2 separate regions of the Homo sapiens genome follow, and region 2 is linked to region 1. Evidence: fine-mapped expression QTL. Tissue or cell type: thyroid. Region 1 holds a variant in brackets; the other region holds the start of a gene. All regions are shown on one strand. Distances are from middle to middle.

Region 1 (2,756 bases):
CCCTACACGCGTTAGCACGCCTGTATGCTGTGGCCACTGACCTCGCGGTGCTCGTGGTGAGGCTGGTGTGGCGCCCTGCTCTCAGCCCGAGGTCACTGCCTGTCCTGAGATGGCTGCTCCCTGACGCACCCGACTTGAGTCTTCCAAGCCCCCTTCCAGGTTGCTCTACGCTCACATTGCACAGAAGCATGACTTGTGCACAAAGGGCCATGGTGCACACGCCGGGAGCTCTTAAACATGAGAGTCGGCTGTCCACTCGTATGGCTGACGGGGGTGGCAGAAGAGGCGCCAGGGGCTGATGCTGTGACCCCTGCGCTCTCCCCTAGTTGGTGTACATGGGTTTTGATGCACTCGTGGCCGAAGCTGCGCTGAGAGTGTTCAGAGGCAACGTCCAGCTGGCCGCCCAGACCCTTGCTCACAACGGAGGAAGCCTGCCTCCCGAGCTGCCGCTGTCGCCAGAAGACTCTTTGTCCCCGCCAGCCACGTCCCCTTCTGACTCCGCAGGTAGGTCTGAGGTCTTTGAGGGCCGCATTGAGAGCAAAGTGTCTTCAGAAGCCAACAGATGTGGCCCTAAGCCACGGCAGATGTGGAGACTGAGGGGGCGTCCCCTGACGTCACCGGGCCGGCCACCTGGACAGTGTGGCCAGCAAGAGGCACAGTCTGAGGTTGACTGTGGTCGTGCAGTGTCCCCAGGACAATCCTCACATAATTCACTTACTCCTGCGGTATTTTATTGTAGGAACCTCTAGTGCCTCAACAGACGAAGACATGGAGACAGAGGCCGTCAATGAGATACTGGAAGACATTCCAGAGCATGAGGAAGACTATCTTGACTCAACTCTGGAAGATGAAGAAATTATTATTGCAGAGTACCTATCCTATGTAGAAAATAGGAAGTCAGCAACAAAGAAAAACTAAATAATGAACAGAAATAGCGCTAATTTTCTGCTTATAAATGCTATCATTATGAAAAGGCTAATGCAGCTCTTTCTGTTCTTACTTTTTATCTGAATTACAAGTCCTCTTTGGGTGTAGGAGGGGGTGGGCAGGGGACAAGTCCAGGAGGGGTCCCAGGGCCTTCATGCGTGGTCTCGGGGAAGAAGCTTCCTCTGGCCTGGCGCAGGCCGTTCCATCTGCCTCCCAGGTCTGCGTCCCTAACCCCTTCCCCAGCTTGGTGTTTTACCCCGAAACAGGAAGGAACAGGGGTCCTGTAGAACAGGGGTCCTGGGGAAGGTGTCCAGGGCAGGGTCCTGGGAAGGGTGTCCCGACCGCTTCCTCTCCAGCTGTGGCTCCATCTGCCCAGCTTGCCTGCCTCCTGCACCCACTGCCCTGACCTTCCTGCTTCCCACGCTGCCATCTCTGCCAGGGTGCCACATGGGTTCCTGTGCCACCCTTTCCCCGCCCCTCAAATCGTCCTTTAAGTCTTCCTTCCAAGTGCTGTGGGGCATAACGATGAGGCGCTGGCCTTGGGGGCCACACCAGGTCGCAGCAAATG[G/C]CTTCAGCCTGGGACGCCAGTGTTTTATGCTCTTAGTTCAGTAAAATACGCCCCCGAAATTCAAGATTGAGTGTCAGGCTTTATATATATTCAGCATTCCTCATTACAGAAATCTTCTATTGAATGGGAAAGGTTTAAATGCTAACCAAAGCAATTTATTTTTAATTAATATTTTTAGACTCTGTGCTGTCATACTGAACTCACTGCTAGCTAAGAGACCTATCAGAGATTTAGATATATTTTCTCCAGGTTTTTTGTGGGTTTTCTTTGTTGTTGTTGTTGTTCTAGCCATGTGACAGAGGCTCTTTCTAAAAGTATGTAGTTCGCTGTGTGTCGGCTCCAGCAGTAACCGTCCTCACTGCGCCACGCACTCCTCTGTAGATGTGTGCCCAGTGGGAGTTCCTTCCAGCCCCAGGACCACAGCAGCAGCCAGGTGCCGAGTGGATTGAGTGCCAGGTGCATCCAAGACTTTCCCTCCCTTCCAGAAGGCACTGACTGAAGACAGGATGGATCATGCGGAGCCGGCTGAAATGCTCCAACTTTTTCAAAGTGTGGGTGGTCCAGTTTGGACTGATGGGAATCTTCTTGTCATTCTTTTTAAACGGATGATACCGATGGAAATAAAAGGTGGGAAATATATTCAAAAATTGTCACCCTAATTTTGCATTAATTTACTCAGCCTCCCCAGCTGTAGGTGTTGAAAGTGTCTGGGTGACTAGCTCTTCATTTTGATTGCAGGATGTCTGTTTCCACTGAGTTTTGTGAGGAGATGATGGAAGGATGATCTCAGAAGCAGAGGGCATCTGCTGTGAAAGATGCCGCACGCCAAGCGGGGCTGGGGTGCATCCTGGGCAGGGGACTGAAATGTACCTGTCAGGGTTTGCCTCAGAAGTGCCTGGTGAGCTGAGGTGACGCGGAGTCTCAGCCTCATTTGACACAATGCCACACTTGGATTTGGGGCCTGAATTTAAGCTTTTGGCTAACAAATCGCTGTCCTGCGCTTGGTTCAGGCGTGTCTTCTAGCTTCCCAGCTGTTTTTAGCCATCATAGAAGCAATGCCACACCAGCAGGCCCCAAAACTCTTCCGTGTCTTGTGAAGAGAGAGCCGCAGAGGAAGCCGGCTGTGGAGGCAGTTCTGGGCATGCGCTATGTCCAGAATGGGCTGCCCTCCAGGCATGGAGACTTGGGCCGGGCCTGCTCCACCGGACAGGCGGTAGAGGAGGGGGCAGGACGGTGCTGAGGTTGGAGGAGAGGCCGTTGC
Region 2 (2,756 bases), 36 kb before region 1:
ATGCTGGGATGCTCATCTGACTGGACCCTGCCATGGGGTGACACCAGGGCTTGATCTGATTGCATTCTGGATCTCACCATGCAGTGCCCATTTCTTAATTCAGTCCCTGCTTTGATCTGAGCACTCAGGTTCCGCCCCTGGTTGCATGCTTGGTTCACCTGGGCATCCTCAGGTTACGTGCGAAACCTTCCATCTGGGAGTCCATGCAACTGAAAAACAACTCACAACTTGGGTATATAAAAGGCGAATCAGATTGGTCTGGTGCGGTTATACAGTTATTAATATCCCTTTGTCAGAAGTCAAAATTACCACAAATTTAGATTAAAGATCTATTGGTTTTTATTGATTCATGAATCAGGATGGCATCTTCTCTGAAAATTTAGAAACGGTGCTCCAACGAGCTGGGCAGAGGAGGTGGGCTTTATAGGTAGAAAAGGGCTAAAGAAAGCAGCAACAGGGAACGAAAAACGGATTGGTCACTGCAAGGTTACAGGAGTCCCCTCTCGTCCACACACAGGTGGTGTGTCCCAAGACCCACAGTGGATGCCTGAAACCTCGGATAGTACTGCACCCCATTTTACATACACACACATATATATATACTATATATATACACACACTTCATTTTTCCTATACATACGTACATACCTACGATAAAGTTTAATTTATTAGGCACAGTAAGAGATTAACAGCAATAACTGATAATAAAATAGAAGCGTCACTGTTGAGCACAGCCTTGGGAATAGGACCTTGGAAGTAGGCAGAGCTCCCTAGGCCTTGTGGTCCCTAGTGGCCGTGGACAGCATGGGGGAGGAAATTCCCGGGAAGCAGCCTAATTTCACCCCAGGGAAGCCCCTGGTGGGCTTGTGGAGGGCGGGGTGAAAAGCCGCTGGTTTAGGGAAGGGGTCCAGCCTAGGCTGAGGAATGAGATGCGGGTTGGGACGGTCCCGACCCTTCCCCCAGCCTCTTTCAAGGATTCTGGAGAAACAAAGCCAGGATCCATTTCCTCTTGATGGCTGGCAAACTGAGCCCGGGCGGGAAGTCCTGGAAGACTGAGCCTGGGGTGGCGTTGGACACCAACTCCCAGGTCCTCGCCCCACACGGCCACATCCTCGCCCAGCCCCGCCTCCGCTTAGCTCCGCCCCGTCGCGGCTCCGCCCCGCGGTAACCACGCCCACACAACCGTATCCCCGCCCACAGCTGGCTTCGCCTTGGCCCCGCCCACAACCCTCTTTCCAAGCGGCGGCGGCGGCGGCGGCGCGAAGGCGACAGCGGCGGCGGGGGCGGGGCTGGCCTCACCCGGAATGAAAACAAACGGCGGCCGCTGCCGCATCCGGGCACTCTGCTGGTCGCGGCGGGAGTGGCGTGGCGCAGGTGAGGACACGGCGGCCGAGTGTCCTCGACCCCAGCCTCAGCAGCACTGCTTGGCGCCCCGGTTCCCGGTCCGACTGGGCACCTCTCCTGGCCAGGGGTGGAGCGGCCGCGGGGCGGGGGTGAGCAGCCATGCGTGGAGCTGGGCCGGGGCCGGGGCCGGGGCCGGGAGCGGTGGGCCGGGCTTCGGGACGCGCTGGCCGTTCGGGGCCCTTTGGTTTGCCCTGAGTTAGGCAGAGGTGTGGGGTATTTAAAAGAAAATATTGAGTGTATCGGTTTGGGGAGAGAAAGGAATAAATATGTCTATAAAAAATTAGCCAAATGCTATACTTGAATCGTAACACTCCGAGTATACCATTTGGGATTTATTTGCAATCAAAGCCAGATTTTCTTTGCTATTTAATGACAAGACACTTGATTTTCTCGAACCTTGACGACCTGATTCTATCATTCTCACCTCCTTCCCTTTTATTTTTAATCAAGAATCTTTCATTTTCCTAAGAAAAAATGAATGTGTCTTGACTAGATATAGTTGTGTTTCAACTATATATAATGTATACTTGAAAAGGTGTGGCTAAATGTAGCAATGATCGATTCATTACAAAAGTGAAAGTGAAATTTTTAAAGGATCGTTATAACGTTTCACTTTCTGCTTGGACCACGGAGTGATATTAATGAGTTTCGTCTTTTCTTAGTTACAATGTGAAACATTGTATGGCATGCATGAAACTTTTTCAGTTCTCATTTCAGTTAAAATTAAAAACTGACTTATTAAACTTGACTTAAAATATGTCGCCACTTACTCTGTTGTCTATAACTGAAGTTCCTTAAGTTTCAAGACAGTGGTTTAATTTTTTTTTAACATTAAATCTTATTCGGTGTAACCCTGGAGCTCTTGTTTGCTCCCTGGAGTGTCTGACACGCACTGGGTTTGTAACACTCCTTCGTCCTTCTGTCAAGTGGTGGCTTGGATGGCATCTTTTTAAAAATTTTTTATTTGTTTATTTTTTTAGTAGAGACGGGGTTTCACCATGTTGACCAGGCTGGTCTTGAACTCCTGACCTCAGGTGATCCACTGGCCTCGGCCTCCCAAGTGCTGGGATTACAGGTGTGAGCCACCGCGCCCGGCCTTGGATGGCATCTCTGAGTACCGCATCAGCCTTTCAAATTGCTTGGCTCCAGTAACCAGCCTGTGAAATTACTGTCCCCCAGTGGGGAGACAGTAGGGTTGCTGTGATATTTTATTCAGAATTTCTGAAGATTCATGAGTAGTATGTAAAGTAGTTTTTAAAGTTATTTGTGTTTGAAAAGCTAACGCTCTAAGTACTAATATGCTTTGCTGTGATAAGCCGTTTGTCAGTGCTTGAAAAATGGAGGATTCTCCC

Evidence for each region. PIP is the estimated chance that this variant, and not a neighbour inherited with it, causes the effect.
Region 2: it holds the start of NUB1, and the variant in region 1 is fine-mapped to the expression of NUB1 in thyroid (GTEx, PIP 0.94).

The regions. Positions count from the first base shown.
Region 1 is chr7:151,376,308-151,379,063 of GRCh38, forward strand. NUB1 (negative regulator of ubiquitin like proteins 1) reads left to right here. Exons shown (of 15, transcript NM_001243351.2): 14 at 327-504; 15 at 740-2,142. The coding sequence ends at 918. It also overlaps a transcript of WDR86 not described here. Among named protein-coding and RNA genes, the nearest start is that of WDR86-AS1, 31 kb to the right of the region's middle. The variant G/C (reference allele first, on the strand shown) is at 1,496.
Region 2 is chr7:151,340,473-151,343,228 of GRCh38, forward strand. It overlaps NUB1 (negative regulator of ubiquitin like proteins 1), which reads left to right and starts at 1,340. Exons shown (of 15, transcript NM_001243351.2): 1 at 1,340-1,374. RefSeq lists an enhancer at 961-1,462 and silencers at 1,060-1,259, 1,430-1,609.